Regions from separate parts of the Homo sapiens genome. Here all the other regions are reported to be linked to region 1. Evidence: microRNA targets listed by miRTarBase, many of them from high-throughput screens and not tested one by one. Region 1 holds a microRNA gene; each other region holds the end of a gene's coding sequence.
Evidence for each region. The annotated mature microRNA hsa-miR-6815-3p reads UGGCUUCUCUUGCACACCCAG and lies in region 1 at 2,813-2,833, opposite strand. An mRNA with a match to its seed (bases 2 to 7 or 8) in the 3' UTR can be bound and repressed. Matches are read on the target gene's strand: a 7mer-m8 pairs with bases 2 to 8, a 7mer-A1 pairs with bases 2 to 7 and ends in A, and an 8mer does both.

Region 2: miRTarBase lists DNAAF9 as a target of hsa-miR-6815-3p. Seed matches in the 3' UTR shown: 7mer-A1 at 2,077-2,083.
Region 3: the mRNA of LURAP1 is a reported target of hsa-miR-6815-3p. Seed matches in the 3' UTR shown: 7mer-m8 at 6,165-6,171.

The regions. Positions count from the first base shown.
Region 1 is chr21:45,473,947-45,481,138 of GRCh38, reverse strand. It overlaps MIR6815 (microRNA 6815), which reads right to left and starts at 2,873; the gene lies at 2,813-2,873. COL18A1 (collagen type XVIII alpha 1 chain) reads right to left here. Exons shown (of 42, transcript NM_001379500.1): 4 at 7,158-7,192; 5 at 5,604-5,663; 6 at 4,659-4,788; 7 at 3,652-3,728; 8 at 3,174-3,389; 9 at 2,786-2,812; 10 at 1,175-1,237; 11 at 983-1,069; 12 at 619-672; 13 at 281-439. RefSeq lists an enhancer at 5,791-6,291.
Region 2 is chr20:3,246,020-3,253,211 of GRCh38, reverse strand. It overlaps DNAAF9 (dynein axonemal assembly factor 9), which reads left to right. Exons shown (of 37, transcript NM_001009984.3): 37 at 528-3,906. The coding sequence ends at 640. Among named protein-coding and RNA genes, the nearest start is that of SLC4A11, 10 kb to the right of the region's middle. RefSeq lists enhancers at 2,429-2,929, 3,589-4,333, 4,334-5,079.
Region 3 is chr1:46,219,871-46,227,062 of GRCh38, reverse strand. It overlaps LURAP1 (leucine rich adaptor protein 1), which reads right to left. Exons shown (of 2, transcript NM_001013615.3): 2 at 5,807-7,192. The coding sequence ends at 6,843. It also overlaps a transcript of POMGNT1 not described here. Among named protein-coding and RNA genes, the nearest start is that of LURAP1, 20 kb to the right of the region's middle. RefSeq lists an enhancer at 7,133-7,192.

The sequences.
Region 1 (7,192 bases):
GTGCAGTCCGTGGACCCACAGGGCCAGAGAGGTCGGAGGCCTTGCTTGCGGTCACCCCCACTGGTCAGCACCCCTAGAACCATGGGGTGGCCACTCAGGTGCTTCCGCACACCCCAGGGTGGCCCCGAGTCAGCAACTGCCCGCCAGCTCCTAGAGGAGATGAGGTGAGGAGGCGGGGACTGGGGAGGCCTGAGGCGGGGCAGGGGCTCCCATGTGGGGTGTTCACCCCTCACTCCCAGCAGACAGGGCTCCCGACACTGACGGTGGAGGCAGGACTTACCGGGAGGCCAGGAAACCCGGGGGGACCCTCGCGCCCAGGCACACCAGGAAGGCCGGCGGGTCCTGGGACGTCGGAGCTGTTCACCCCAAAGCGGCCTGGCTCGCCGGGCAGGCCTGGGACACCGGGGGGTCCGGGAGGTCCAGGGAAGCCTCGAGGACCCTGGACGTGGGCGAACACAGATAGTCACAGCCCATGTGGCACCCACCAGGGATGACCACCACCCCCAGAACGGGCCTCATCCCCACCCCCCACAGGACCCCAGCTGAATCTTGGGGGTCCATGGCCTGTTCCTCATGGGCACAGACATCGGGCAGCGCTGCAGTTTAAGGGCCACTCACCCGCAGGGCCTCCAGATCGCCCCCGAAGCCAGATCCCTCCATGTCAATGAAGGTCTGAGGAAAAGAGCCGGAGAGACACGTTGCCCTGAGCTCGGCCCCCCGCCTGGCCTACTCCTGGCCCCTGCCCCGCAAGCTGCATATCGAGCTGTTTCTACAAGGAGCTGAGAAACCACGGCCCCTCTGCTGCCCCCAGAGAAGCCTGAAGGCAGGTGGATGGGGGCTCCCACCACACCTGTGACCCCTCAGCTCAGCCAAGACCCCACGCAAGCCCCTGAGGGTGGAGCTGATACTTCTGGGCCAGAGGCAGTGCCTGCTTTTGAGGAGGGCAGACCCCGGGTCGCAGGAAGCCAAGGGCGGGACTTACCAGCTTGTCGTGTCTGAAGGAGGGTCCTGGGGGCCCTGGAGGCCCTTGGGGTCCTGGGGGCCCTCTCTCTCCAACCCCAGGGTCTCCCTGGGAACACAAGACAAGCCTATCATACCCTGGGCACGCACACAGCCCCCACCTTGAGCCAAGGGCCAACACAGGAAGGGGCCCCACCCAGCCACGGAGACTCACCTTGTCGCCCTTGGGACCTACGTCCCCTGGAGTCCCGGGGAAGCCTTGTGGCCCGGTGTCGCCCTGGAACACAACATCCGGGGGCCCGGTCAGGGAAGGCACCACCATGGGCCGCACCCAGCACTCTCAGTGCTCCTCCCCCAAGCAGGGGACGGACGGGAGCTGAGCCCTTCAGGGGAGTCTCTGGGGCCCGGAAAGTACGAGGGCGCCAGGCCCAGCAGACTGTCTCCCGCCTGAGCCCATTTCGCCAGCCACGCCTGGGGGAAGCTGCGGGCAGCATCCCTCGGGAGGTCACAGCAGGTTCCCCGAAGGCCTCCACAACAGCTGGTGCTTGGGTGTTACATACATGTGTGTGTGTGTGTGGTATGCATGGTGTGTGTGTGAGGAGTGTGGTGTGTACATGTGTGATATGTATGTGTGATGTGTGAGTGTGCATGTATGGTGTGCATAATCCATGGTGTGCACATGTGTGCACACGTGGTATGTGTATGTGTGTATCCACGTGTGGTATGTGTAATGTGTGGTGTGTGTGCATGTGTCCACGTGTGATGTGTGCACGTGCGTGTAGCATGTGTGCATGCGTCCACCTGTGGTGTGTGTGCACACACGTGTGTGTAGTGTGTGTATGCAAGTGTATCCACGTGTGGTGTAATGTGTGGTGTGTGCACACATGTGTGTAATGTGTGTGCATGTGTCCACGTGTGGTGTGTAATGTGTGGTGTGTGATATGTGCTGTGTGTGCATGTGTGGTATGTGTACGTGTGGATCCTCACCCCCCCACACACACGCGCAGTCACACATTCACACACTCAAACACATGCACATACATACACACGTGTGTGTGCCCTGTGGGTGGGCCCCGTGGATCATCACCCCACACTCACACGCGTGCGTGTACCCTGTTGCAGTGGGTGGGCCCCGTGCCGCCCCCCAGCCGACTGTCCTTTGTCTGCCGTGGTCCTCATCGCAGGCAGCTTGGCTGTGGGGTGCCAGGCGGTCGGTAATGACCGTTCGGTGGGCACCATGAGATGCCCTCCCTGTCCTTTCAGACCTTCTAGACTGTTTTTAACTTGAACCCTCCTGTCCAGCGTTCGTGACGGCCCCACTTTCTGCCGAGTGTTACCATTTGCTGGGCAGGCTGTTCCCAGGTCTTTATTCGCAGTCGATCACGTCATTACTGTGCTTGGAAACGGTGTTTGCTGATTTTTAAAGACTGAACTGCGTGTTTTGCGACGAAGCTCGGACTTCACAGAGTCTCAGGTCGCCCCGTGCTTCCCTCCCCCGCCGACTTGCACCACCCCCTGCCCCGCCCGACTTCCTTTTTCTTTGCTGTGCGTCTTCCCTCTAAGGGTTTGGAAGCTCTGCCTTTTCTCACTTCCTTTCCTTCTTCATGGTAGTTGTGGCCCAAATGTCTCAACACAAATGCATAACTGCTATTTCCCATCAACAGTTACACTCATCTTTTCTTTACAAAATTCCACTTTCAAAATGGTTTTGCTGTACAGTCTCCTCACTGGGTCGCGTTTAAAAAGAGTGTCACTGGCAACAAAGCCCTGGGGTCTAAGCAAACATCACAGATAACACAGGGGTCAGAAAGAAAAGCAGACTCACCGGCTTTCCGTCTTCACCGGGGTCGCCCTGGGTGTGCAAGAGAAGCCATTAGTGATGGGAAATGACTCCTCCGGCGCCACCTACAGTGTCTACATGGAAATGCACCCCACGCTCCAAGTCCCCACGAGGCGGCAGACGCCTTCCCCCGATGTCCTCGCACCCGCGCCAGGAGCCTCCTCACACCCACAAGGGCTGTGTCTGAGCAGCTCCGCCTCCCACGTCTGACCACCTTCCAGCACCAACCCCGAGCAACGGTGGGCCTAAGGAGGCTGCTGACCTGCCCCGATCCCAGCTCAGCTCACTCCCATGTCGGCCGCAGCCTCTCCCCCTCCTACCCAAGCCCCCACCCTCCAGACCGGGCCGGACTCGGGGGGACGTGAGGACTCACCGGCTCGCCGTCCCTTCCAGGGGTGCCGTCCCTCCCCGGAGGCCCTGGGGGTCCTTGTGGTCCGGGGACAGTTTGCAACGCTGGGCCTGCAGGACCCAGGGGACTCACTGGGCACGGGAGACCCGGGGGACCAGGTAGGCATGGGGATCCTGGGGGGCCTGCCCGGCCAGGTGGGCCCGGAACACCTGGCTCCCCTTTCTGCCCCTTCAGGCCGCCCTGGGAATAAACAGAACACAGGGCTCGGGCTGGGGTGGGGCCCCACACACCCTGCCCACGTGTCCCGCTGCGCCCTCCAGAGTCCCAGGCTGGGCTGCTTCCCACAGTGGACACGCAGGGTGGACGCATGCTGGCACCGAGTGCTGGGCACAAAGGAGGCACGGGCACAGAGGGGCTTCATCAGGGCTCACCAGTGAGTGGCCCAAAAGGCCACAGGTGCTCTGGTTCAGAATGGTTCAGGAGCACAGGGAGGTGGCCTTACCTCTTTCACGCGGCCCCCAGGGGTCCGGACACTCCCGTCCCACGTGGAGACAGAATCTGAGCCAGGAAGTGTCTGAGCTGGGAAGAGAAGCAGAGGTGGCCACGGTCACGCCCCCCGGGTGGCCCCAGCTCTGCTCTCGGCACCCCAGACGGCCCCGGCAGCCCAAACGCTTTCAGTCCTGGAGCCCGGCTGGACACTGTCAGATCCCCAGCCTCAGGCCGCACTCCCCTGAGCTCCAGCTCCCAGGCAAAGGCAACAGGGAGACAGAATTTAAAATCAACAGTGAGGCCGGTGTGGCCATCTAAGCCAATGACAGCTGAAGTCTGGGAGATGCTTCCTGAATTTGTTACAAGAGACCCTGGCCCCCCAGAATGCCTTCTTATCACCCAGCATGCTTTGTCCCTTTTCCTTTTTCCCTCTTAACTTTTACTTAAAATAAAAATGAAAACCAACAGAAATCCTGCAAGAGAAGCACAGTGAACACCCAGAGCCTGTACCCAGAGCCACCATCCGGGCCTCGGCATCTCCCCACCTGCCACACACACACACACACACACACACACACAAAACACATAATACACATCACACACATGTACATTACACATGCACATCACACACATACACACAATACGCACACTACACATCACATACAACACAACATGCACTGCACACCACACACGTACACTACACGCAACACACACACCACACCACACACAATACACACACCACACACTGCACACACACATGCCCACATGCATGCACCATACACACTACATACACATCACATAAACATCACACATGTCACAAACATGCACATCACACACCACACATCAAACACCTGCCATATATTTCACACAAACACGTGCCATATCACACACACATGTACCATATACACCACACACTACACACACCATACATCACACACATACCTCACCATCACACAAACACACGTTACACACCACACACACCCCACACCACACACACACCACATCCAGAAAAGAGCTTACCTCCTAACGAAGCCACCGTGGTCTGCTCCTCGACTTCTTCACTTCTGGAATCTTCCGTGCTGCTGCCTCCAGCCAAGGGTGGCGTGGTGACGGGGGGTGGCGCGGGGAGCCTGGGTTTTAGGGCCGCGCCCTGGAGGACGAGAGGGGAGGTGGCCTGTTATTCGGCCGGCAGATGCCCGGTGGAGACTTGCTTGGTTTGTGAAATGAAATACTTAAGATCGCAAGAAAGATAAAGAAAAATCCTCTGAAACAGGAGGGTGCTCCAGGGCCGTGCGCGAGGGGCTTCCTTCCGTGGGCCGCAGGGGTGTGGCCGCCTGTGGGCTCCCCGGCTCCCCAGGACCCAGGACCGCGCCTGCCGTCACCACAGAGGCCTCCCGGCGCCCGACAGGCCATGCTGGGAAGCTGATGTGAATCTGCAGAGGGTCCCCGCAGGGAACACGTTCCCGCACCCGTCTCTCACGGACAGCACCGCGCCTCAGTCCCGCGGCTGGGGCCTCCCCACTCCCCGCCCCTCCTGTGTTTTCTCAGGTGGCCCGAGCTGGGGAAAGCCTTCCGCGCGCTCCCTGCGCCGCCTTCTCCTCCTGGTCGTCAGGCTCACACACGCGTTCATTCCCTGATGGCCACGCACGAGCTAACGGAGGGATGGGGCGAAGGGAAGGCCAAGGTTGCCTCGAAGACCAAGGAGTGTGCAGGGCAGGACCTCGTTTTAAAGGAATATCCTCTCACCAGAGACACGCGGCGGCCAGGCAGGGCCGGAGCGGGGCCTGTGCCCAGGCTCCGAGCGTCTGCCCAGCCCAGCATCCCTGTCCCCAGCCAGGAATATGTCTTCGTGGCATAGAGGGAGCTCTTGGAGCCACACCTGCGTGTGCACATGTGTCACCCCACTGCTGGGAGGGGCTCTCCCGGGACCCTGCAGCGTGGGCTGGGCCCCGTCCGGCTACTCACCGTCTCCTCCCTGAGAAGCTCCCGGGCGTCCCCGAGCCCGCTGCCAGAGTCTCCGGATGCCTGAGGAGTTTGAAAAGGGAAAGGCTGGAGAGATGGCAGCCAGGCCAGGCCCCGAGCCCGGCAGGCCTGGGAAGCAAAGGACGCTGCTCTCGCCTCCTCCAGGCCCCCTCTCGCCTCGTCCAGCCCTCTCTGGTGCTCTCCGGGGGGCCGCTGGGGTGGGCACGCTGGCCTTCCCTGCCCAGGCACCATCTGAGCTTCAGTAAGTCGTGTCCAATCGGGTCGAGGACAGTGACGCTTCTGAACCTGCCTCGGCCGGTGGTCAGACATGCGGAGGCGGGAGGGGGAACGCGCTCCTCTCTTCTGGCCAGAGCCCTGCCCTGGAGGAGGCCGCACCGCAGATGCTCCCCGCACAGGTTTCCCCAGCGCACGCCCGGCTGGGCCGAACACGCGCCAAGGCGGCTGGATGTTTTAAACTTCAGGAAAACCCGGAGGAGAAACATCCTCAGGGACCGCTACTGACCCCTGAGGGCAAGACAGGCCAGGGGAGGGGTGCGGCGCCTCGGCGACCCCCCGCACCCAGCAAGCTGTCCCAGGGCGCAGCCTTGTCATGGCCGCCATGTGAACGATCTGGCGTCTTCTGGCATGTTCCAGGCAAAAACAACGGGCTTATTGGGCAAAATAAAGAAAAAGCATGAAAGTAACATGGATGTTCACACACTGCCCACAGTCCAGCCACGGTGTCTCCTGCCCACGCCCCCAGGAGCGAGGCTGTGGGTCCACGTCCACGGCGTCTCCTGCCCACGCCCCCAGGAGCGAGGCTGTGGGTCCATGTTCACGTGGGGCATGTTGTGATCTGGGCCCCTGAGTGAGAATTCCCTGCTGTTCCTCACACCTGGGGCTGGGGGATTCTCCCCTTGGGTACCACGTGATTCCACACACCCCACCAACACACACGCCACACAACACACAGACACAGACACAGAGACACACGCACCATGCAGACATGCAGACACAACACACAAGACAGACACACCACAGAGACACACCACACACACAGAGACACACCACACACAGAGACACACTACACACAGAGACACACCACAGACACACACGACACACAAGACAGACACACCAGAGACACACATACAACACACACAACACACAAGACAGACACACCACACAGACACACACACATCCACACACAACACACAAGACAGACACACCACAGAGACACACCACACAAGACACAGAGACACACCACACAGACACAGACACACACACACACTTTGCTGAGCTGCCTCACATCCTCTGTCTCACCAGCTGCCATGGAGGGTGGTTTCTGGTGTTTATATCATGCTTTGTATTTGTTTTTATGGGAAAGTTCAGGGCAAGGAAGGGCTCTGAGGTGCTACAGGAGAGCACAGAAATGGTATCGCAGCTTCCCAGTGCCCCAAGTGGTATATTTTGGGACTTTTCCTGTCATAGACCTTGGCCCTGAACTCCGCGTGCCAGGGATTGAGGGGAGACCCCACCCGTGCCCCAGATGTCACTCACCCCATCTGAGTCATCGCCTTCCTCGTCCAGGCAGT
Region 2 (7,192 bases), not on the chromosome of region 1:
CCTCAGCCTCCTGAAGTGCTGGGATTACAGACATGAGCCACCGCGCCCAGCTTAGAGACTAGGTCTCGCCATGTTGCCCAGGCTGGTCTCAAACTCCTGGGCTCAAGTGATCCATCTACCTCAGCCTCCCAAATTGCTAGTATGGCAGGCATGAGCCACTGCGCCCAGCCTGTGAGTTATAGTTTGGATGCAGCTGCGGTGATATCCTGAAGTCTGTCGTCATCAGAGTCACGATTTACAAGTCGAAGACAGCCTAATTACAACAGTTAACCTGTGAAAAGATGGATAGGGCTGAAGCTGAAGGGCTCAGTTCTAGGACCTCATTAACATCCCTGTGACAACAGCCATTGCATTCTTTGTAGCTGTGGTGCTGCCAGTATATACAAAGAGTCCATCAGGTTCCCTCTCTATGGGCCAGACACTCACTTCCTCAGCAAACCCCCCTCACCTGCCTACAGGCCGCTCTGGGCTCAGGCAGCCTCCCTTGTCCTCCAGGCTCAGAGCTCTCTTCCTTAATGAGATACCAGTCATGGACCAGTTCATGAATGACTACGTGGAAGAAGCCAACCGGGAAATTGAGAAGTATAACCAGGAGCTGGAACAGCAGGAGTATCATGACCTCTTTGAGCTGAAGCCCTAGAGGAAGGCTGGGCCCGTACGTCCTGCAGAATGTCCACCTTGGAGATGGACGAACGGGTGTCTTAACCTCAGCTCTGCTGGAGGCCTCTCCCTTAAGGGGCTGTCTTTGTTCTCCTTGGCCTGTGTGGGCTGGCTTGAGTGCATGTTGTCTTTATTCCCTGTATAGCGCTGAAGAGCATCACCTGCACCATTGATTTTGGGGGTCGGGGGAATACTCAAGGATGAGCAGATGGGGCCTGCCCGTCTACGTGTGCAACTGGCAGTCCAGGAGCTCTGGGTTTCTGATAACAGGATCTCCTTTGGGCTCTTGAGGTTGGGGAGAAGCATTAGGATTACACAGAGGAGCTACTGGGACTTAGAAGGAACCCTGGCTGCCTGAACTGTGGCCGTGTCTGGGAGGCGAGGCCACGACAGGCCTCAAGCCTCAGATGCTGCTCCACGAGAGCCATCTTCCCCAGTGGAGTGCCTGCCTCCCCTGCTAGGCCCGTTTCCCTGAAGGAGCTGGCCGTACTGGCCGTGGGCCCAGTCCTGGGAGGAGCAGCACAGCCTTGCCCAGGCCCAGTCCACAGAGCCAGCAGCTTGGGTTGAGATGAATGATGTGTTCACAAATGAGGGGATTTCCCTTCTGGACTAAACTGAAGGAGAGGCTTGTTGCTTTCCAGAGGTGTGTGGCTCTTAAGTTGACATCAGCTTTTCCCCTTGTGGGTGGTTCTTTAGCTCTCCTGTCACACCATTCGGGTGTCCTAATGTAGGGACAAGAGCAAGCCTGCTGCTCAGGCCCCCTGGCGAGGCTTCACCTCACTGTGGAAGGGGGCGTCCTGCAGCTGGTTAGTCTTAGGCCTGGTGGCTGATCACTTGTGGGGTCAGTCTCCAGCACCCAGCGCTCCCACAAGCCTTGCCAAGGAAGGCCTGCTTTTCAGCCACAAACTTCAGGAAACTCATCCCCCCGCTCCCCAAAGTGTTGTTGCTGGCCCTGGGCTTGTGTGGCTCCTGAGGATTGGGAATTTCAAATAATTGCAATACCTGAGTTAGAATTCCTTCTAATGGCATCGTTTTAAGCTGGACCATAAAGCAGAGGGGAATTACAAGTGTGTCCCATGCCTGACCTTCATAATTGGTGTGGGGGACAGGGGAGTCACAGCCACTGATATTTAGGTGATGTCTCTTAGGACTTCAGTGCCTCAGCTGCCTGAACTGTAAATGTTTTCTGAATTTCACATATTTTTTTTTGCATGCCTTAGGAAGAAGCACATAGGTAAAACCAGCAGTTTCCAGTAATATAGGGGGTTTTTGAGCAAGGCCCCTGGAGCAGCGGAGAGACAAGATGGAGCACATGTAGTCTGTGTGCCTGGTCACACAGAGGCCTGCATGCAAGTAGCAAAGCAGCTCTCAAGGGCTTGTCAGTAAAATATATTAGAAAAAAAAAAAAAACAATTTGAAGCCAAATGAACAAAACTCCAGATACCATTGATAAGAAATTTTGCATCAAGAAGGGCTTCTGAAAAGACCCACGTGCTCCAGTCCCAGCTCCAAAAGCCACTGATGACAAGGGCCCCACTGTGGAACCTAAGTCTGGGAGCCCCCTGACTTCTGGCTGGCCAGAGGCTGCGGTCCGTCAAGGGCTTGCCTCGCTTCAGAATCAGTAACATAGATCTTAAGTGCAATTGATTAATAAGCAGTGAGTTACTGTAGCTTCCTTTAGCTCTACCGAACTCTTTTTAAAAACTCAAACTTGAGCAGCCTTAGAAAAGGGGTTGGGGGGTGGGAACCACAGGCCATTTCTCTAAGTGGGCTGCTGTGAAGTTTTAAATGAAAGCTCTAGCTTTAGGAGCTTGAGCCATTTCCTGACTGCACTGGCCTGGCAGTCTGGCTGCTGCAGAAGAGTTTTTAAAGAGGGGTCGGAGCCCGCCCGTGAGAGCGGGTCTTCTCACCATGTGGGGCTGTACTACGTGGTGGTCTTTGTTTCTCTTCACAGAAATGCTCTCTCACCAACTTGCCCCACTGTCCCAACTCCTCTCCTCTTAGAGAAAAAACTGTGATTACCTCAACTTGAATATGAAACTGTGATTGAAAAAAGTCAAAACGTGAAGAAGCATCAAAGCCAAAAAGGCAAAACTGGCTGAGGCCTCTGTTGATGCTCCTCAGCCTACTCGGGAACGTGAAGGGGCAGCTGGCGAAAGGGCATTCCTGGGGCCACTTGCTCTGCCCCACTGATAAGGCACACCCGCGGTGCACTGTGAGCTCTTTGAGGACTGAGGCCAGGGGATGCCTCCTGGAACCTGCCAGGCCTCTCTGTTCTGTGAAGGTCAGTATCCACTTGATTCCTCCAGGCGGCGCTCCAGGTGGGAGGAGCAGGGTCTTCTGCTGTTTCCAAAGGAATGGCCATGACACTGCTTTTGACCTTAGAAGTGGATCCAGGGACCCAGCAAAGAGCGGGGGTGGGTTCCCAGGGACAGGCAGTCCTCCCGGGGCTTACATGCTTTTTGCTAACTTTCCTATTAGCAGCTTCAGTTTATATCACCCAGAGTGCGTGGGATAATGTTGAAGTCGCTGAAGTTACGGGTTATTTTATGTTTTTACATGGGATTTTTCTGTTTTTGATTGGAAGAAGGAGACAGAAATTGGAGGAAATGGGATTATTATCCTAGGGAAGGGCCGTTGGCAAGGAGTTGAGCCGGCCCCTCTGAGCCCTGGGGGCTATCTGACCTGAAGCCTGGACACTGGGCCCTTCAGGTCGCAAGAAAAAGTTCCCTCCTAAATTCTATTAGGATTTTGGAGAATTTTTGCACAGTAAGAAGCTCTGGGTTGCTCCTTGGGCTTCTCAAAAGGGAAAAGTTCAATTCAAAGATTGTAAACTACGAAGTATTCCAGCCGTGTTGCTGATCTAGTTGGATAGTTGTACCTCAAAAAAGTAGGTGAGAACTGGCTTCCTCATTGTCCCAGGATGTCAAATACTAATGACATAAGAGCTCACTTACGTGCCAAAATTCACTTTTATACTAGTTTTTCAGTGCTTTAATATTTGTAACTTAAATTTTAAAACTCGTATTTACAAACACTACTGTAACTTCAGTGAAACTGAATTGTGCGATTGAAGCTTTTTGCTTATCATAGTATTTATTACACTACTTAATTCAGTAAATATATAAAAGTAGCCTTCAATTTATTTTTATATTATTTTACATGTTTTTACCTGCAGTTGTGTATGTGAATTTACCTTGGTAATCGAGATGTCATGCTAAGGACCAATAAACTATCACTGAACAAGCAAGGCCTCCAGACGATGCCTGTGCCATACACTCAGTCCCGTGTGCTCCTGGGGCGGGGGTGACGGGGGCCGGCCCTCAGCCTCCCCTGGACGCCTCTGGTGGGGATGCTGCGGGAAGTCCTCGGAGCTCACACTCCCTCCCTAGACGCCGGAGCAGCCCGTGGAGAGTAAGAATAAAATTCATCTGAAGAAACCACACTGGCTTGCGGGGTGGGAACTTGGGGAGTCCCAGAACTTGGGGAGGGGCTCAAGGAAGCCGGCTATGGGAACGGGGCTCTCCCGGCCCACCCGTGTCCCTCACCCTCGTCTTAGTCCGCCGTGCACGGGTGCCGGTTCTCGGCCCCAGCCTGCCGCGGCCGAGCTGTAGTAGGAACCACGCCTTTCCAGCCTGATGGGCGCGTTTCCGCGCAGTGAAAGCTTGGCGAGGTGGCTCCTCGGTCCTACTTTATACATGGGGACGACTGGAGGCGCTGACGGGTCAAGTAAGGGCCAGATTTGGCGCTGCGCGTTGGAACCGCAAGTTCTAACGGGGGGGTTTGCCGGAGCCCGCGGAGCTCTAGAGGAGCGACCAGAAAGGCATCAGCTGTCCCCGTGCAAGCTCGGGTTCCACTCGCCAGGCGGTTCCTGCCGCACGTGGCGCGGGCCTCCCACCTGACCACACCCCGGGCCCCCGCTGGCCGCGCAGGGAGGTGAGGAAAAGGGGCGCCCGCCGCCAGTCCATAGACACCCTGCTTCCTGTCAACCAGTCGCTGGGTGGGACAAGGGGAAATGCCCCACTGGGCAGATGTGGAAGCTGGCCCGGGGGAAAGGGTGTAGCCTCCGCAGATAGCTTCAGGTGATTGGGATGGTGGTCTTAGGTTTGGAAGTTCCTTGAGATAAATTAGTCCTGTGCAAACCAAATGCAAATCTGCACGGGAAGGGCCTGGTAGACTTGGGGGAGGGGGCTGGCGGCAGTGTTACCCTTTCACAACCTCTTCCCCAGAGCCTCCGGCATCCCCATCCTGCAGGCCGGGGTTTGAACTTTGATGGAGCGCCTGCGGTTGCATTACGGCAAAACCTCTAGGGTTTGGGGATTAACCCCTAGGAATTGCCAGAACGATGGGGAGACAGTAAATGGTGAAGGGCTCTCAGAGGGACTTAGAGGCCAGGAAACCTGAGGATGGGGAAAGGATCCCATCTTCCACCTGGAGCTCTCAGTAGGGACAGGGGACTACTGAAACCCTAGTGCTGCTTACCAGAGTGGGAGCCCCAGAGTCAGGGAATCCTGGCAGAGTCGATTGTGAAAAGTGATTTAGAGCAGATCTCATGTGGAGCTGCTGAAAATCAGAGAGCCCGCCAAGGAACACAGAGAAACACCAGTGTTAATCTCTATCCTACACTCTAGGGAAAAGTTATACCCAAAGAAGACATGACCATGTGACCCACTTCCAGCCCATGACAGAAAGAGATCAGCTTGGTTTCTGCAGGAGTCCAGACTAGTACCAGCTACAGGTCAGCCAGGCGCAGGCACTAGTATGTCATCAGAACCCTCTATCTTCGGTGGCTTCATTCTTCCCCTGCAGCAAGCTTCCCTTACACCACCAGCAGCACCAGGGTCCCATAGGCAAGGATCACATTCTCATCCCTGAATAATTACCATGGTCAGGAGGAATGGAGTTTTCTGATTAGCCTGGCCTTGGGTCTCCATACCAGGCCCATCTGAGAGGTGGGCCCCCCACAGAACGGCTTGCTCCCCTAAACCAGCATTACGCATCTCCCTGCAGTTTCTGAGCTTTTCTGATAAGTCAGACACCTACTTGATTTTTATTATTATTATTTTTTTTTTTGGATACAGTCTCGCTCTGTCGCCCAGGCTGGAGTGCAGCAGCGAGATCTCGGCTCACTGCAACCTCCACCCCCTGGGTTCAAGAGATTCTGCTGCCTCAGCCTCCCGGGTAGCTGGGATTATAGGCACATGCCACCACACCCAACTTTTTTTTTTTTTTTTTGTATTTTTACTAGAGGAGGGGTTTCACTATGTTGAGAAGGCTGGTCTTGAACTCCTGACTTCAAGTGATCCACCAGCCTTAGCCTCCCAAACTGCTGGGATTACAGGCATAAGCCACCACACCTGGCTTTTTTTTTTTTTTTTTTTTTTTTTTTTTTAAGACAGAGTCTCACTCTGTTGTCCAGGCTGGAGTGCAGTGGTGCAATTATAGCTCACTGCAGCCTCAACCTCCTGGGGCTCAGGTAATCTCCCATCTCAGCTTCTTGAGTAGCTAGGACTACATGCATGTGCCACCTCACCCAGCTAACCTACATTTTTTTTTTTAAACAGAGTCTCACTCTGTAGCCTAGGCTATAGATCACAGCTCACTGCAGCCTCAACCTCCCTGGGTTCAGGTCATCCTCCCCACTCAGCCTCCCGAATAGCTGGGACTCCAGGTGCACACCACTATGCTGGGCCAAATTTTGCATTTTTTGTAGAGATGTTATCTATGTTGCCCAGGCAGGTTTCAAACTCTTGGGCTCAAGTCATCCTCCTGCCTTGGCCTCCCAAAGTGCTATGTTACAGGAGTAAGCCACTGCACCCAGCCCATTGTTTGGTTTTATAGTGCCTCAGCACAACCCAGGGATACCAGTGATCATGGGATCCTGTCTGAGAATCTATTTTTCTTAAACAAAAGAAAGGTCAAAAAAAAGAAAAAAGAGAAAAAGACAGGTCATGTAGAGCCAGGCACGGTGCCTCACACCTGTAATCCCAGCACTTTGGGAGGCCAAGGCAGGCGCATCACTTGAGGTCAGGAGTTCTAGACCAGCCTGGCCAACATGGTGAAACCCTGTCTCTACTAAAAATACAAAAATTAGCCGGGCGTGGTGGCAGGTGCCTATAATCCTAGCTACTCGCGGGGGCCGAGGCAGGAGAATCACTTGAACCCGGGAGGCGGAGGTTGCAGTGAGGCGAGATCGTGCCATCACACTCCAGCCTGGGCGACAGAGCGAGGTTTCATCTCAAAAAAAAAAAAAAAAAAAAAAAAAACGCCGGAGGTGGTGGCTCACACCTGTAATCCCAGCACTTTGGGAGGCCAAGGTGGGTGGATCACGAGGTCAGGGGTTCAAGACCAGCCTGACCAACATGGTGAAACCCTGTCTCTACTAAAAATACAAAAATTAGCTGGGCGTGGTGGCGGGCACCTGTAATCCCAGCTCCTCAGGAGGCTGAGGCAGGAGAATTGCTTGAACCTGGGAGGTGGAGGTTGCAGTGAGCCTAGATGGTGCCACTGCCCTCCAGCCTGGGTGGCAGAG
Region 3 (7,192 bases), not on the chromosome of region 1:
TGAGGTGGGAGCATTGCTTGAGCCCAGGAGGTCAAAGTTACAGTGAGCCAAGATCACATCACTGTCCTCCAGCCTGGGTGACAGTGAGACCCAGTCTCTTAAAAAAATAATAATTTTTTTTTTTGACACGGAGTCTCGCTCTGTCGCCCAGGCTGGAGTGCAGTGGCATGATCTCGGTTCACTGCAACCTCTGCCTCCTGGGTTCAAGCAATTCTCTTGCCTCAGCCTCCTGAGCAGCTGGGACTACAGGCATGCGCCACCATGCCCAGATAATTTTTGTATTTTTAGTAGAGATGGGGTTTCACCATGTTGGCCAGGCTGGTCTCGAACTCCCGACCTCAGGTGATCCACCTTCCTCGGCCTCCCAAAGTGCTGGGATTACAGGCATGAGCCACCGTGCCCAGTCTAAAATTTTTTTAAAAAAGAAGAAAATAAAATAAGAAAGGGGCCTGGTGATGGAATTCACTATGCTATGAGAAGCATGGTTTAACTATTAAATAATTAAAAATAACAATTTAAAAAGAAGACAACTAATCAATCTGCCCTTTCCAGAGAGAACCCAGGTTAGTTCACTGGGAATATAATTATCTTCAGCCTTGGGGAATAGGAGCACAGAATGGTTCTGGAGAGGAGACAGTGTTGAGGAATCCTCCACTGTGGTTACCAGGAAGGTCTCAGGTCTAAAACGATTCCTAAACTGAGGCTTTCTCCTAAGCCTGATCTTCATCTTTGGCTCTCCCTGGTGGTGATGGTACAGGAGGCATTTGACATTCTCTAGACATGGGGTCTGGACCTGCCACCTCCGCCTTGGTACCACCTCTCATTCCAGGCTAGGGGAGGCTGGACAAAGCACAGAGGTTCATTCTGGGCCTGGGTGCATCCTCCTGCCCACTTTCCACCCTGCCTGTGTCAGGCTAAAAGCCCCTCTCCCAAAGATGTCCAATTCCTAATCCCCAGGACCTGAGGATAAATATAAATTTTCTTTTAAGAGAAGAGTCTTACTATATTGCCCAGGCTGGCCTGAACTCCTGGGCTCAAGTGATCCTCCAGCCTCAGCCCCCTGAGTAGCTGGGACTACAGACACTCACCAGCTGCTTAACCTGTGAACATTTTATCTTAAATGGTAAAAGGGACTTTGAAGGCAGGATTTAATTAAGGATCTTGCCAATGGGAAGATGATACTGAATTATCCCAGTAGACCCAATGTAATCCTTACAAGTGAGAGGCAGTAGAATTAGAGAGATGTAGGGATGGAAACAGAGGTTAGAGAGGAGAGAAGATGCTCTGCTGCTGGCTTTGAAGATGGTGAAAAGAGCCACGAATCAAGCACTGCAAGCAGCATCTAGAAGCTGGAAAAAGCAAGGAAACATTCTTCCCTGGAGCCCACGGAAGGAGTGTAGACCTGTCAACACTTTGACTTTAGCCTGGTGAAGCTGATTTTGGACTTCTGAACTGTAACATAATAATTTTGTTTTTTGAGCCACTTTGTGGTAATTCATTACAGTGACAATAGGAAACTAATGTCCTGCCCCAGCTTCTGGGCAGCACTAATCTGTTCTCCTAGGAGAGTAGGGTCTAAGTGAGTGTATGGCATGGGTAGGGAATCAGAGGAGGCTTCCTGGAAGCCCCTGCAGTCAGGTTGATCTGGGTTATTACAGCTCATTTGTTACTTAACTGACCTTGAGCAAATTTATAAGTAAGACTATTGTTAACAATGCACTGTTTATAGGATTGCTAAAAAGTAAATTTAAAAATATTTTCAATTATCTAATTTGTAAATTAGCAACTTTTTTTTTCAGTCACATCTCCTTGTGGGCTTACACATATTCATTCTTCCATTCACTGAACAGGTGTCACGGAACACCCAGTGTGTGCCTGGCACCATACACACAATGAGCTTGTGTCTGCTACAACTCTCAAGCATTTCTCACTGAAGCTGTCACTGAGCTTCCAGTTAGCTCAGTGCTCAACCTCAATGCCTCCATCCTAAATGCAGGCCTCAGCCGGGCATGGTGGCTCAAGCCTGTAATCCTAGCACTTTGAGAGACCGAGGCGAGTGAATCACTTGAGGTTAGGAGTTTGAGACCAGCCTGGCCAACATGGTGAAACCCCATCTCTACTAGAAATACAGAAATTAGCTGGGTGGTAGTGGCGTGTGCCTGTAGTCCCAGCCACTCAGGAGGCTGAGGCAGGAGAATCGCTCGAGCCTGGTAGGCGGAGGTTGCGGTGAGCCGAGATCATGCCACTGCGCTCCAGTCTGGGCGACAGAGTGAGACCCTGTCTCAAAATAAATAAATAAATAAATAAAATAAATAAATGCAGGTCTTTACAATGCCCACTCCCATGGTCTCTTGTCTCAGCCAGCACCGCCCCCGCTTATCCCCCCAGGCACTGTTTCTGCAGCTTTCATGAGCAGCCTCTTCTTTGTCTTTACTCTGACCCCGGACAAAAGCCCCCAGTGCACTTGAGGGCAGTATGCGCCCTCTGATATTTTCCACACCCCGTTTTCATCCCATCCTCTCCTCTCTCTGCATTTCTGCCCTTTTTCTTACCTTCTCCTTCTTTGAGCTCCCAAACAGCTGTACCCTATAAGCCAGAAAAGTCTAGTTAGAGAGAAGCTGAGCCTCAACCAGCCAAGTTAGAGGCAGGTAGAAGGGACCAAAGATATGTGTTTACTGGAGTTTCCGGGCTTCTCTGGTGGTGAACTGAAATCTAAGGTATTCAGCCAGGATGCCTAGACCTAAGCGGAATACCCAGGCAGCCTCACTCACCCCAGCTTTCCAGCCCCACAACACTCTCAGGTGCTATCCAATTGACCCGTAATTCCCTGACCTGTGGAGCCACACCTACTTCTGCAAGACCCATCTAAGTTTCCTAATTTCACAGCTCCCCACCCCCACCTCTGCTTCTAACCTCCAGGTCTGAAATGCTGAGCTCTGTTCCTATGATGTCTGGAGCTACTAGCCCTCCTTCCCAGAAAAATGGTGGGTCCAGGATTGATTTTTCCTCCTATCTGTGATCCAGACTAGTGCATCCTTCACCCCTTCATCCAGTCCAGGCCCAGGGTTTTCTTTCCTGCAGCTCTTCCTCTAAAGACTAAGCTGCCTCTTTAGGAAGAGGTGAGAACGCAAACATTGTAACAGGGGCAAAATTGCTTTCAGTCCCTTTGGGCTTCAGTGGTGTTGACTGGCCAGGTGATGGAGCTGTGGGCATGTGGGCTTGTGATCTGGGTTTTCTGACCTGGACGTCGCCACAACTTTACAATGGGTGATGCTGGGCAAGTCTATGCCCTCTTTAGGTCTGACTCACTAGCCTTTCTGCGCACTGACGGGGGCTGGTCTTTAGAAGGCCATGTTTTATTTGAGCTTGGAGGTTCCACACAGCAACTCCAGCAGTGGTGCATAATGGCCACAAGAGGGCGGGCAACCTCTTCAGCTCATAAGTGTGTAGACTGAACAAGTGAACCTCAAATAAGAATACTATACAGTGTCTTCCAAGAAGGGTATAATTCCATGAACAATGTTGCTGAAGAGAAAAAAAAAAGAAATAAAGGCTGGGCATGGTGGCTCAGGCCTGTAATCTCAGCACTTTGGGACGCTGAGGTGGGAGGATTGTTTGAGCCCAGGAGTTTGAGACCAGCCTAGGCAACATGACAAAACCCTGTCTCTAGAAAAAATACAAAAAGTAACCCGGGCATGGTGATGCGTGCCTGTAGTCGCAGCTACTTAGGAGGCTGAGGAGGATCACTTCAGCCCAGTAGGCAGAGGCTGCAGTGACCCGAGATCGCACCACTGCGCTCCCGCCTGGGCGACAGAGTGAGACCCTGTCTTAAAAATAAAACAACAGGCCAGGCAGGTGGCTCACACCTGTAATCCCAGCACTTTGGAAGGCTGAGATGGGCGGATCACTTGAGGTCAGGAGTTCAAGACCAACCTGGTCAACATGGCAAAACCTCGTCTCTACTAAAAATACAAAAATTAGCCAGGCATGGTGGTGCACGTCTGTAATACCAGCCATTTAGGAGGCTGAGACAGGAGAATCGCTTGAACCCGGAAGGCAGAGGTTGCAGTGAGCCGAGATCGCGTCACTGCACTCCAGCGTGGATGACAGAGCGAGACTCCATCTCAAAAACAAAACAAAACACAAAACAAAACAAACAAACAAAAAAAAACAGGAAGGGTAATTAACCGAGGGCACACTACAAAATGACTACAGAGTAGGGACTGGAATAGGAGATTCAAATTCCCAGTCTGAGGGGAAGTCAGGAGTCCCAAGACCATAGGAGTGGTATGGAGAGGTCTTGTGAGCAGTGGAAGAAGCTGAGAATATACTTTGGACATTTCAATCATTTGAGGGGGTGGGAGGGGAAGAGAGGGTGTTTAGGGACAAGCCATGGACTGAATATTGCTCCAGAAGGACCGGGGTGGGAGTTTCAAAATGAGACTTGAGGAATTTAGGGAAGCAGAGATGATCAATTTGGCTTCCTTCCCTTCCCCAACACAGAATACAAAATAGAGAAATGGCACGAGTTATTCCAGGATTTGAGGAGGACGCCTCTTTTGCAGGAGGATGCAGTGAACAGCCAAAGTCATCTGACATCCTTTTCCATCTTTTTCCTTCTAGTATCCCAGTTTCAAGGCCCAGGAAAGGCAGGGACTAACATATGGAGCAGTTACCCCAGAGTTCAAAGGGTTAATCTCTAAGAATTCATTCTCTGACACCAGCCACAGCTCTTGTCCCCATCTCTGGGACCGTCCCCTCTGAGCCCCAGGTTGGCAGCTTCCCTGAATTCCTTCTATGATATAATTTGTAATTCGGCAGGGCTCTGGGACCCAGGCTCAGAGACCCAGGCTCTGCTCTCTCCTCAGTTTCCGGGAGTCAGGGCTTGCTCTAAGGGAGGAAGTAAACAGGCCTTTCCCTTGCTCCCTCTCCTTTTCCAGGATGGGGCCCCGGGACCAAAGAGCTTCTGTCTTTCCCTGCCACGCCCCCACGCTGCAGCCTAGACAAGGAGATTCCTTGTGTCCCGACCTCAGGCAGGCATCCTTGTGACCAAATGGTGGAAGGCTGGGGACAGGGTGGGGGAAGGGCAGTCACAAAGTCAGAAAGGATGACACCTCCCCTATCCAAGATTCTGGTACACCCCCAGAGCTCTGAGACCTTGAGGTTCTCTCTCCCTGGCTCCCATCAACAAAGGGCAGAGGAGGCCAGGACTCATTTGCATATAAAAGGCCTGGAGAAACTGAAAAGGCATGGACACACAGAAGCTGAACCTCCTGGAAGGGAGATATGGAGTCAGAATACAGGAATAGGGCCAGACACAGCAGCTCATGCCTGTAATCTCAGTAATTTAAGAGGCTGAGGCGGAAGGACTGCTTGAGCCCAGGAGTTCAAGTGCACCCTAGGCAACATGGTGAAACCCTGTCTCTGGAAAAAAATACAAAAATTAGCCAGGCATGGTGATGCATGCCTGTAGTCTTAGCTCCTTGGGAGGCTGAGGAAGGAGGATCATTTGAGTCCAGGAGGTCGAGCCTGCAGTGAGCACTACTGCACTCCAGCCTGGGCAACAGAGGGAGACCCTGTCACCCTATCTCAAAAAAAACAACAAAACAAAACAAAAAAATGGAATACAGGAATAGGGGCAACACAGGGACAGGGTAAGACAGGGGACCATGGCAGGGTGAGCCAAACAGACTTGAGAGAAATAAATGGAGGCCCCTGAAAGCTTCTCTCCCTAAAAGCAGTCAGGAGTGCTGGCCCAGACAGGGATGCAGGGATGGAGCCACAGAGGAAGTGAGATCCCCTAGGATAAAATGAGAACACTCTATTTAAAAAGTAAGACCTGAAAAGAAGCACAAACATCTGACAATGAGAAACTTTCCTGCCAGGAGGAGTGACATGTTACTGTTCACAAGAAGTAATGGTATGGACGATAAATAATGTGATCTCACTTAGCAGCAGGGGCTCAGATGCCCCTATATGACCTACTACCATCCAAGGACCCGTACAAAGGGCTACCCATCCTGGCAGGAAATGACATCACTCAGCAGGTAGGAAGGGGTGGGTCTACCAGCCCAAACGCTTCTGGGAGGGCCAATCCATAGAGGGTTAGTCCTGAAGGTCCATGTCCCTCCTCAATCCTCCATCTTGGCCAAGAGAGAGGCCAAGGCTTCTAGACTTTGGGTGAAGTAATTATGCCCCCATCTCTTCATCTGTTAACTCCAGGGAGTCCTAAATTCCTTAAATCCTTACTTAGCTGGGGGGAGTAGTGAGAGATACTAAATACCAAAAGCCATAGGTCAATCCTTTAGAGTCAATATCTCTATAGAAGTATCTCTAGGGGCTGGGCATAATCCCAGCACTTTGGGAGGCTGAGGCGGGAGGATCCCTTGAGCCCAGGAGTTTGAGACCAGCCTGGGCAACACAGGGAAACCCTATCTCTACAAAAAAAAAATAAATAAATAAACAATTAGCTGGGCATGGTGGTGCATGCCTGTGGTCCTAACTATGGGGGAGGCTGAAATAGGAGGATCGCTTGAGCCCAGGAGGTCAAGGCTGCAGTGAGCTGTGATCATGCCACTGCTCTCTATCTTGGGTAACAGCATAAGACCCTGTCTCAAAAAAAGAAAGAAAGAAAGAAAGAGCAAGCTAGCTCTAGGGACCCAATAATTGAGGGATAAAGGCAGAGACTCCCTAGGGACTAGAGAAATGATGAGCCAGGTTTCCATGGTAACTGATTTCAGTGCAGCCTCTTCCTAGTCTCAGACTGAGGGAGAATCAATTTTGGGGGAGACCACATCTAATGGATAAAAGAGCCACAGGATTACAAAAGGGTGGAATAGTTGTTACAAGAAGGTCACATCATCCTGGCACTGCTCCCAGAACCAGTGGGCCTCGAAGCCCAGCTTGGCACTCTCATCCTCTGGTGACTCAGGTGGTCCACCTTGAAGCCTCTCCCCTGGGGGCTTCCACACAGCTCTCAAGCTCCCTAGCCTGGTGGCTGCCACATCCACCTCAGTCCTGGCCCTCTCTCCACCAGCTATAACTTTTGCCCAGTCCATCTCGGAACGTGGAGCCCCAGGTGGGCCCTGTTCATCCAGCTCGCTGGGGGCCACTGTGTCCAGGAAGCTGCCAATAGAGACACTGTCCAGCCGGTCGGTGGTGCTGGTGTCTGGCAGGCTGTCCCAGCTGCCTC